Regions from separate parts of the Homo sapiens genome. Here region 2 is linked to region 1. Evidence: fine-mapped expression QTL. Tissue or cell type: skeletal muscle. Region 1 holds a variant in brackets; the other region holds the start of a gene. All regions are shown on one strand. Distances are from middle to middle.

What was found. PIP is the estimated chance that this variant, and not a neighbour inherited with it, causes the effect. A credible set is the group of variants that fine-mapping cannot tell apart.
Region 2: HSPB2 starts here. The variant in region 1 is the best candidate, but not a certain one, in a credible set for the expression of HSPB2 in skeletal muscle (FUSION, PIP 0.63).

Annotation. Positions count from the first base shown.
Region 1 is chr11:111,949,180-111,954,557 of GRCh38, forward strand. All of the region lies in intron 1 of DIXDC1 (DIX domain containing 1), which reads left to right. Among named protein-coding and RNA genes, the nearest start is that of DIXDC1, 15 kb to the left of the region's middle. The variant C/CT (reference allele first, on the strand shown) is at 2,690.
Region 2 is chr11:111,910,654-111,915,970 of GRCh38, forward strand. HSPB2 (heat shock protein family B (small) member 2) reads left to right here and starts at 2,081. Exons shown (of 2, transcript NM_001541.4): 1 at 2,081-2,270; 2 at 2,788-3,440. The coding sequence starts at 2,177. The coding sequence ends at 3,242. CRYAB (crystallin alpha B) reads right to left here and starts at 1,117. Exons shown (of 3, transcript NM_001289808.2): 1 at 871-1,117. The coding sequence starts at 1,071. It overlaps HSPB2-C11orf52 (HSPB2-C11orf52 readthrough (NMD candidate)), which reads left to right and starts at 2,083. Exons shown (of 5, transcript NR_037651.1): 1 at 2,083-2,270. RefSeq lists an enhancer at 2,832-3,485.

The sequences.
Region 1 (5,378 bases):
ACTGGCAAACTTATCTAGATACTCTCAAACATGGATCTCCCACCCCGCCCCCAGCTCTTGGGCTCTAGACCTGTGTTTTGCCAACTGGCTGTGGAACATCTATACTCTGGTGTTCTACAAATAGCTCAGACTCTCTCAAAACCGAGCCATTGACTTTTCCCAGTGCTTGTTCTTCATGTCTTCTCCATCCCAGTTAAAGCATCACCAGCCAGCCAGTCATTCGGGTCCAACATTTTGGACCCTCTTTTTGTCGCTCCCTACATCCTATCAGTCATCTCTGGCTTGTTTCTGGAGTTTGTCCTTTGCTCACTGGTGCTGCTTCAGTTTAGGTGCTTATCTTCTCTTGCTTGAATTATTGCCTGGGCTCCTCGTTGGCTTCTTCAATCTGTATGCTGTTCTTTCTATTCCAAGATGCCAGTCACACAGTTTCACTCTCCTGTTTCACAACTTCACACTTCCTGTTGAAGGTCATTAAGCCTTAGTCTAAGTGCTGGTGGTCGTGGGCAGACCTGTTTCTCCAACATTATCACCTGCTCCGCCCACACGCTACCCCCTCAACTGGCTGTTCCTCTAAGATAGTATGTGTCTTCTGACCCTTCCTCCTTCCATCACCTCTGCCCTTGTCCTCTCTGCAATTGGCAGACATCCGTAAAGAACCAGCCAGATGTCTCCTTCCCTGTTGACCTTTTCCTGATTCCTCCAGCCTTCCATCCTGTTGCTCCTTCTCTGCATAAATAGCTTTTTTTTTTAAACGTTTCTCTCTTGTAGCAGCAATCACTTTGTGTCCGTTATTTATGTGCCTGTAAGCACTGACCTTGGCACAATGCCTGGCAGATAGTAGGGACTCAAGAATATGTTGACTTGAATAAATGAATGCATGGAATGACAGGATCTCTTGAGACACAATCTAGCAAGGTGAAATTTATTAAAGGCAAATGTGGATCAAGAAAACCAATTTTACAAGCTCAAAGATGGAAGGGATATGGTTTAACAGCAAAATGTGTTAAAAATTATTTAGGGGTTTTGGTTGACAGTTTAGTATGAGTCACCAATGTGACCCAAAAAAAGAAAAAGAAAAGAATATGAAATATCTTGAATGAAGAAGCTGAGTATCTGGTTTTATACCTAGAGTGTTGTGCTTGGTTCTAGGTATTACAGTTTTAGAGAGACTTAGATTGAATAGCAATATTTCTTATTTTATTTTTTTTTATTTTTGTGGGTACAAAGTAGGTATATATATATATATATATATATATATATTTTTTTTTTTTTTTTTTTTTTTTTTTTTTTTTTGAGACAGAGTTTCACTCTTGTCGCCCAGGCTGGAGTGCAATGGCATGATCTTGGCTCACTGCAACCTCTGCCTCTCAGGTTCAAGCGATTCTCCTGCCTCAGCCTCCCGAGTAGCTGGGATTACAGGCGTGTGCCACCATGCCCAGCTAATTTTTGTATTTTTAGTAGAGACAGGGTTTCACCATGTTGGCCAGACTGGTCTTGAACTCCTGACCTCAGCTTATCCACCTGCCTCAGCCTCCCAAAGTGCTGGGATCATAGGCGTGAGCCACTGTGCCCAACCAGTAGGTGTATATATTTATGGGGTACATGAGGTATTGTGATATAGGCTTATGATGTATAATAATCATATCAGTGTAAATGGGGTATCCATCACCACAAACATTTATCCTTTCTTTGTGTTACAAATAACCTAATTATACTTTTAGTTACTTTAAAATGTACAATATTATTGCTGCCTATAGTCACCCTTCTGTGGAATAGCAGTAATTCTTCAAACCAGTTTGCTTTTAAGGTTTTTTAAAATAAATTACCAAAATAGACAAACTACTAGCTAGCATAAATAAGAAAAAAAAGGGAGAAATACAAATACACAAAATAAGAAATGACAATAGAAAAATAGCCACTGAAACAGAAAAAGTAATTACAACAGACTTTGCAGTCCTCTGTGCAAATACATTCAAAAACTTTGATGAAATGGATAATTTCTTAGGTAAATACTGATTACCAAAATTGATAGAAAATGGAAGTTTAAACAAACCAATTTCTATAGAAGAATTAGAGAACCCTATTAAGGAATTATTCCTCAAAAAAGTACAGGCCCAGATTATCTCATGGGTAATTCTACTAAACCTTCAAATATCAGATGGACACAATGTTGTGTAAATTATTTCAGAGCATTGACAATGAAGGAAAACCCATAAATATGTACACCTACTGTATACCTATAAAAATCAAAAATTAAAAAAAGAAAATGAAGACTTTCCTAAAAGTTTTTATGAAATGTAATATTTATATCTAAACATTATAGAGATGGTGCAAAAAAAAACTACAGACTAATATTATTTATGAATATCCATGAGATTTGGGAGTGGCCAGGGGCCCCAAAATCATATAGTTTGGCTATGTCCCCACCCAAATCTCTTCTTGAATTCCCACGTGTTGTGGGACCCAATGGGAGGTAATTGAATCATGGGGGCAGGTCTTTCCTATGCTGTTCTCATGATAGTGAATAAACCTCACGATATCTGATGGCTTATGAGGCAGAGTTTCCCTGCACAAACTCTGTCTCTCTTTTTGTCTGCTGCCATCCATGTAAAATGTGACTTGCTCCTCCTTGCCTTCTGCCATGATTGTGAGGCTTCCTTAGTGATGTGGAACTATAAGTCCATTAAAA[C/CT]TTTTTTTTTTTTTTGTGATGGAGTCTCACTCTGTCACCCAGGTTGGAGTATAGTAGCATGATCTTGGCTTGCTGCGATTTCCACCTCCTAGGTTCAAGCGGTTCTCCTACCTCAGCCTCCTGAGAAGATGGGATTACAAGTGTGTGCCACCACACCTGGCTAATTTTTGTATTTTTAGTACAGATGGGGTTTCACCATGTTGGGCAGGCTGGTCTTGAACTCCTGACCTCAAGTGATCTGCCCGCCTCAGCCTCCCAAAGTGCTGGGATTATAGGCATGAGCCACCATGCCCGTCTTAAAATCTCTTTTTCTTCCCAGTCTCGGGTATGTCTTTATCAGCAGCGTGAACACAGACTAATACAATGTTCTTGAGTAGGATGATTCAACATCATAAATATGTCAATTTTCTCTAAATTAATTTATAAGTTTAATACAATCCCAGTAAAAATTCCAAGAAGCTTTTTTAGGAAGTTAGACAAATTGACACTAAAGTTCATATGGTGAAATAAATACACAAGAACAGTCAAGAAAACACTAAGGCAATGGTTTACAGGCAGTAGTTTACCTGTAATCCCAGACTTTGGGAGGCCAAGGTGGGAGGAAGGTGAGGCCAGAAGTTCTAGCCTGAGCAACAAAGTGAGACCCTGTCTCTACAAAAAAATCCAAAAATTGGCCAGGCCTGGTGGCTCACACCTGTAATCCCAGCACTTTGGGAGACCAAGTCAGGCAGATCATGAGGTGAGGAGTTCGAGACCAGCCTGACCAACATGGTGAAACCCCATTTGTACTAAAAATACAAAGTTAGCCGGCTGTGGTGGTGCGTGCCTGTAATCCCAGCTACTTAGGAGGCCGAGGCAGGAGAATTGCTTGAACCCAGGAGGCGGTGGTTGCAATGAGCCGAGATCACACCACTACACTCCAGCCTGGGTGACAGCGTGAGACTTTGTCTCAAAAAAAAAAAAAAAAATCCAAAAATTAGCTGTGGTGGCGTGTGACTATGGCCTTAGCTACTCTGGAGGATGGGACTAGAGGATGGATTGAACTTGGGAGGTTGAGGCTGCAGTGAGCTGTGATCATGCCACTGAACTCCAGCCTGGGCAACAGAGCAAGACCCTGTCTCCAAAAACCAAACAAAGAAAAAACAAATGGGGCAGATTTCTATAAACCACTTTGGAGTGATTTTCAGAATTAAATCAAGTGAATCAAATGAAGTGAAGTTAGAAAGAAAAGTACAAATTAGTATCAATACTATCAGGTTTTTCACAAAAGAAAGAAAGAGAAATAAAGGAACATACATGTATCTGTTATTTTCCATATAAACTGGAAACTAATGAGCTTGGTTATGTGGGATAGGGTGCGGAGAGGTACATGGGAATGCGGTGGAAAGAATGATGTGGGAGTGACACTTTTTATGTTTTTGAATAGCTCTTTCAGGACCTTATTAATTTTTCATCTATCCAAAAAATAAATAATTAAAATCAACCAGGCCGGGCACAGTGGCTCACTCCTGTAATCCCAGCACTTTGGGAGGCCGAGGTGGGCGGATCACCTGAGGTCAGGAGTTTGAGACCAGCCTGGCCAACATGGTGAAACCCCGTCTCTACTAAAAATATAAAAAATTAGCCAGGCATGGTGGCACGTGCCTGTAATCCCAGCTACTCAGGAGGCTGAGGCAGGAGAATTGCTTGAACCCGGGAGGTGGAGGTTGTAGTGAGCCAAGATCACACCATTGCACTCCAGCTTGGAGACAGAGCGATACTCCATATCAATCAATCAATAAATAAAATCAACCAGAATTTGGGGCTAACCAAAAATGAACTACAAAGAGTAACAGATGAACCTAACTGTATTATAAATGAATAATATAACCACAGTGGAAGGAGTGGAAAAGGAAAGAACTAACCCAAGTAACTTTGGAAGCAGTATTTTGGCTGTGTACTGTAAGGCTAAAGACAAAAAGTATTGTACAGTAAGCTGTCTCTATCCATGCGTTCTGTATCCATGGCTTCAGCATCTGTGGATTCAACAAACTGCAGATCAGAAATATTTGACAAAAGAAACGCGTCTGTACTGAGTAGCTACAGACTTTTTTTTTTTGTCATTATTCCCTAAACCAGAGGTCCCCAACCTTTCTGGCACCAGGGACCGGTTTCATGGAAGACAGTTTTTCCATGGACCAGGTGGGGGATGGTTTTGAGGTGATTCACACACATTACATTTATTGTGCACTTTATTTTTGTATTATTACATTGTAATATATAATGAAATAATTATACAACTTACCATAATGTAGAATCAGTGGGAGCCCTGAGCTTGTTTTCCTGCAACCAGATGGTCCTATCTCGGGGTAATGGGAGACAGTGACAGATCATCAGTCATTAGATTCTCATAAGGAGGGTGCAACCTAGATTCCTCACATGCACAGTTCACAATAGGGTTCCCATTCCCATGAGAATCTAATCCCACCGCTGATCTGAAGTGAGGCGGAGGTCAGGTGGTAATGTGAGCAATGGGGAGCAGCTGTAAATACAGATGAAGCTTCACTCTGTGGCCCGGTTGCTAACAGGCCATGGACCAGATGCCTGTCCTAAACTATTACAGCTTAATAACTATTTACATAACATTACATTGTATTAGCTATTACAAGTAATCTAGAGATGATTTAAAAGGGTGCTTAGGTTATATGCA
Region 2 (5,317 bases), 39 kb before region 1:
ACCCAAACTTTATTTACAGGGACAGAGAAGAAGACAGATCACCCAGGGGACCAGTCGCAAGGATGGGTGCAAGCCTGGCATCTGCTGCCTCTCTGACTCCAATGCCTGGCTTTGTGGTTTGTCTGTGAGACAAAGGCCTCTTCTTCTGGCTCAGGTCTCTTTGCCAGTTTTCCACCCACCCAATCTGGAATGTTCTGCTGGTCCTGCTTGTCCTTCCAAAGCCCTTGCCCACTCAGCTCCTGTTTACTCACACTTGAATATTTTTAAACCAGAGTGTTATCTGTGACAGCTCTGTCAACCTTATTTGTTCACCCTGTTCTTCCACCCTCTTAGGACAAATGGGCGTCCCTATATTGTTTCCTCGTAGGGCTTGATTGGACCCAGGCCAGCGCCCTGTCGTAGCCCTGAGAAACCCAGAAAATCATAGAAGAGGGAATAGAAAGGCAGAAAATACCCATGGGGATGAACAGCTCAGGATGAGGCAGGGCTCTCTCCTGGCTCTGAAACCTGAGATGGTAAAATCGGTCAAGAGTCCAAGGTGTTGGAAGAGATAAGCAAAGGAGTTTGAAGGCAGCTCTTTCCCTGCAGATTGTCATGAACCAAACCAGAAAGGGGTATCCTGTAGAGAAGTTAGGGGACGGAGGATAAACTTGACAGTGCATGAAAAAATGTAATAAATGGGATACAGAGGACTATCAAATAGAAACAGGTGATGGGGGAGGAAGGCACTAGCAACCTCCTCATTTTTCTTCACATTTGGACACACATGTGCCTAAAATGGTTTAGGCAGGGTAGGAAAGGAAAATGGATGGAGAAGTTTCCAGGAGGTTCCAGTAAGGACTCTCCCGTCCTAGCTGTGGGGAGACTCACCTCTGAGAGTCCAGTGTCAAACCAGCTGGGTGCCCGCAGGAAGGAGGGTGGCCGAAGGTAGAAGGGACTCAGGGAAGTAGACGTCGGGAAAAGATCAGACTCCAACAGGTGCTCTCCGAAGAACTGGTCAAAGAGGCGGCTGGGGGAGTGGAAAGGAAAGAAGGGGCGGCGGATCCAGGGGTGGTGGATGGCGATGTCCATGGTGGCTAGGTGAGTGTGAGGGGTCAGCTGGCTGGTCAGCTCCTTCAGCTGCAGCTACAGCCAGCCCCTTATATATGCAGTCTTGTGAAGCTTCTGGAATGGTGATGTCAGGGGTTTTATTATCCTAGCTCACCAGCAGTTCATGGAGACTTGTGATCCGGGATTTGGCAATGTGACACATACCCAGTACTCACTGAGCTAAGAAAAGAGAGACACAAACACGTCTGAGCCGGCCAGTGACTTGTCATGGTCTTGTTTCACTAGCTTTCTGTCCACACCCAATGGCACCCACCCCCACCCCTGTTCTCTGAAGCTGGTACAGAGTCAGGAATCCCAAGCAGGCACGCGGGGTGGGGGGAGGATGGGAGCCGGCGTAGTGTGCCCCTCCTCCTCCTTTCCAGTCCTGAATGCCAGGGGAATCAGGCCAGCAACTATCTTGGGCCTGGGCAGGGACTGGAATCTTCCTAGGCTGAGCCCCAGGGACATTAACTCTTTGTGAGTCCTTGGAAGAGAGCAGTGATGGTCAACATGTCAGCACCAGCCATCTGCCTCGTGCCCTGGGTTGACCTGGGTTTAGGAGAGGATCCCACATCTGGGCAGAAAGACCCCACCCCCTGAAAAAAGAGCAAACAGATTTCTTGCATCTTTCGTTCTATGTGGCTCTCAGAACATTAAATCCAGGAGTGCTTTAGGAATTGGGTGCACAGTGCCTGCCACCGAAGAGGAGAAAATGAGGTGTGGAAACGTGCAAACCGTTTGTGAGGGTCTCAGCGAGGCCTCTTCATGCCCCAGGCACCACCAGCTCCCCCTCCCCAGCTCGTTCCCAGCCAGGACCCTCAGCTGTCCTCTCAGGCCCCCTGCGACAGCTGAAGAGTGTGCGGGGGAGGGGACTAGGGGTCCGGGCGGCGCTGGTCACACCCTCGTTGCTCTCACTCAGGGCCCCCACTCCCAGCCCCTCCCCCCCCAAGAGGCTCGGCACTATTTTGGGTGGTGTCGACCCCGCCCCCACCTCCTATCGAGCCCTGGCTCTCCGGGCAGCTGGAGGGGTCGCGCTGCGCCTGTTGGGGCTGCACCTCGGACCAGGGCTTCTGCTGCATCTGCAGCCATGTCGGGCCGCTCAGTGCCACATGCCCACCCGGCCACCGCCGAGTACGAATTTGCCAACCCGAGCCGCCTGGGTGAGCAGCGCTTCGGAGAAGGTATGGCACAGACACCACCCCCTTGCCCCCCACCCCCACCCCCTGAAATTCTGGGCTGACCTCCCAACGTTGCTGGCCTCCACCCCACTCTGGGCTTAACTGATCTCCTGGGACCAGCCACCCCCCACCCCAGACTACCCCTCATCCCCTCCAAGCAGAGATCTTTCCCATTCCTGCTGACCTCAAGACACACTTGGTGCTTGCAGTGCTGATACCTGCTCTTTGCCGGCCTGGGTGTGCCTCCTTGTCCCCCTTCTATCCACCCAGGCCGTTTGGTGCCTCCTCCTCCTCCCCCTCCTCCTCCTTCTCCTCCTCCTCCTCCCTTTCCTTTCCGTTCTCTTTCCCCTCTTCCGAGCTGCCTTCTCCTCCTAGCTACAGTGTGGCCTCCCTCCCGTTCCCTACTCCTCCTGACTCCCCTCTTGCTCTTCCCAATCCCTCCTCTCCAGATTTCCCATTTCGCCCCTGTGCCAGCCTCATCCTCCCTCATCCTGCCTCTTGCCTTCTCTCTGCCCTTTAGGCCTCCTGCCAGAAGAGATCCTGACCCCCACACTCTACCATGGCTACTATGTCCGGCCTCGGGCCGCCCCAGCTGGGGAGGGCAGCAGGGCAGGGGCCTCCGAGCTTAGGCTCAGTGAGGGCAAGTTCCAGGCATTTCTGGATGTGAGCCACTTTACCCCAGACGAGGTGACTGTGAGGACTGTGGATAACCTGCTGGAGGTGTCTGCCCGGCACCCCCAGCGCCTGGACCGCCACGGCTTCGTGTCCCGAGAGTTCTGCCGCACCTATGTCCTGCCTGCTGATGTCGACCCCTGGCGAGTCCGAGCTGCTCTCTCCCATGATGGCATCTTAAACCTGGAAGCACCTCGGGGTGGCCGACATTTGGACACAGAGGTCAATGAGGTCTACATCTCCCTGCTCCCTGCGCCTCCTGATCCAGAGGAAGAGGAGGAGGCAGCCATAGTTGAGCCCTGATTGCCACAGACCCAGCACCCAGCAAATCCCTCTCTACCTCCCAAGGTGATATGGGCAGCTGCCCACCACTCCAGAGGTAGCAGCATCCTTGGGGGAAGGGAAAGGTGCATGGTCCACAATGTATGGTTTGGTCCCATGGGACATGTCATAGCCTTGGTTTAGTTTTGGGTGGAGCTGAATAAACCCAAATCTCAGGGCCTTGTTTGTACTGCTCCCTATTCTGTGGCCGGGAAGCTGGGATGGGGAGGGAGGGAGGAGGTCACAGCCAGCTAGACAAAAAGCTCCTCAGTTTGATGTGCCCAACGTCATAGGACCCTGAGCTCGCACTTGGATGCTGAGATCACACCCGGAAGCTGACTCTGGCTCCAGATCAAATTCCTAGCCATAATTTTCTCACAATGCAACAAAAGAGAGAGTGATCCTGGGAGGGAAAAGGGATATGCCATCCAAACAGCCCAGAGGGCACTGTCTGAGCTGGTGATTAGAGACACAAAAACAAGGGTCTCCAGACTGTCTGGCCCTTTTTGGGTAGGGGCTGGGAAAATGGTTTTTGGCTGGTGAGAGTTGCCTAAAGTCCTGGAGTGAATACTTTGTTTTCATGTACTAAGGTCTGTCCACTTAAATGGTCACTGATTTTGAGAGCCTGAGTATGCATACACAGGGCACAGACACAAAGCCTCTCCAATTATCACGGAACCCCATTACCTTCCCATCCTCTGGGGGTACGGTGTATTCAGGAAAGCCTGAGGTCTGTCCCCTCAGTTATTCTCTGCAATCAAGAGAACATCCAGCTACATGATTTGGGGGAAGTGTCCAAAAGACCTTCCTGCCTCCAAATACATATTTCATTAGGCTGTGGTAGATACCTACAATTCTTCCATTAAAGCAGTTGTTTCTTGGCTGGGTGCAGCAGCTCACACCTGTAATCCCAGTACTTTGGGAGGCCGAGGCAGGAGGATCACTTGAGCCCAAGAGTAAGAGACCAGCCTGGGCAATAGAGTGCAACCTTGTCTCTACAAAAAAATAAAAATTAGCCAGGCATGGTGGTGCATGCCTGTAGTCCCAGCTACTTGGGAGGCTGAGGTGGGAGGATGAGCTAGGGAGGTTGAAGCTGCAGTGAGCTGAGATTGCGCCACTGCACTCCAGCCTGGGTGACAGAGTGAGACCCTGCCTCAAAAAAATTAAATTGAATTGAATTAAATTAAGTGGTTGTTTCTTAACTTTTGGGAGTTATAGACCCTTCTGAAAATCTGACAAAAGCTATAGCTGCTCTTACCAGAAAAATACATATGCTCCCAAATTTGGCAATACAATTTGAATAGGTTCCCACAACTCTTAAGACCCATTCACATACCCCCCTTAGGGATCTGTGGACCTCCAGGATAACAGAACTCACTTGAGGAATTCGACTTTTGGTTAAAAGATTGCTGTCTATTAAAAATGAAAGCATGCCCCAGAGAAATAACATTTGACATATTTAACTGTTCATTCATTCATTCAGTAAATATTTATCAAACCTCATGTAATACACCTTGGGGGATATACATTGTAAATATAAATTATAAAAACTATTAGCTTTTATTGTCAACTTTCCAGAATCTAGTTGAGAAGAAAAATAATAAGAAAAGGATTCTACTTAGACTTCAACCAAAATAGCTTCACATTGATATGTTTTGTAACTGAGCTTTATTTAAAGGAAAGGGTTTCCTAGCTATAAGAAATTTGAAAACTTCTGATTTAGTCCAAATCCCCTCTCCATTCAAATGCTTTTAAAGTTATTAATCAACTTATTCGGGGACATTCTGAATAACAGACAACTTAGAACTTCTCACGGTAGTCGTTTCCATGTTCTTTCTTTTCTTTTTTAGACAGGGTCTTGTTCTGTTGCTCAGGATGGAGTGCAGTGGCATGATCATGGCTCACTGCAGCCTCAACCTCCCTTGCTCAAGCAATCCTCCTGCCTCAGCCTCCTGAGTAGCTGGGACTACAGGTGTGTGCCACCACGCCTGGCTAATTTTTTACTTTTTCTGGAGATGAGGTCTCGCCTTGTTGTCCAGGCTGGTCTTGAACTCCTG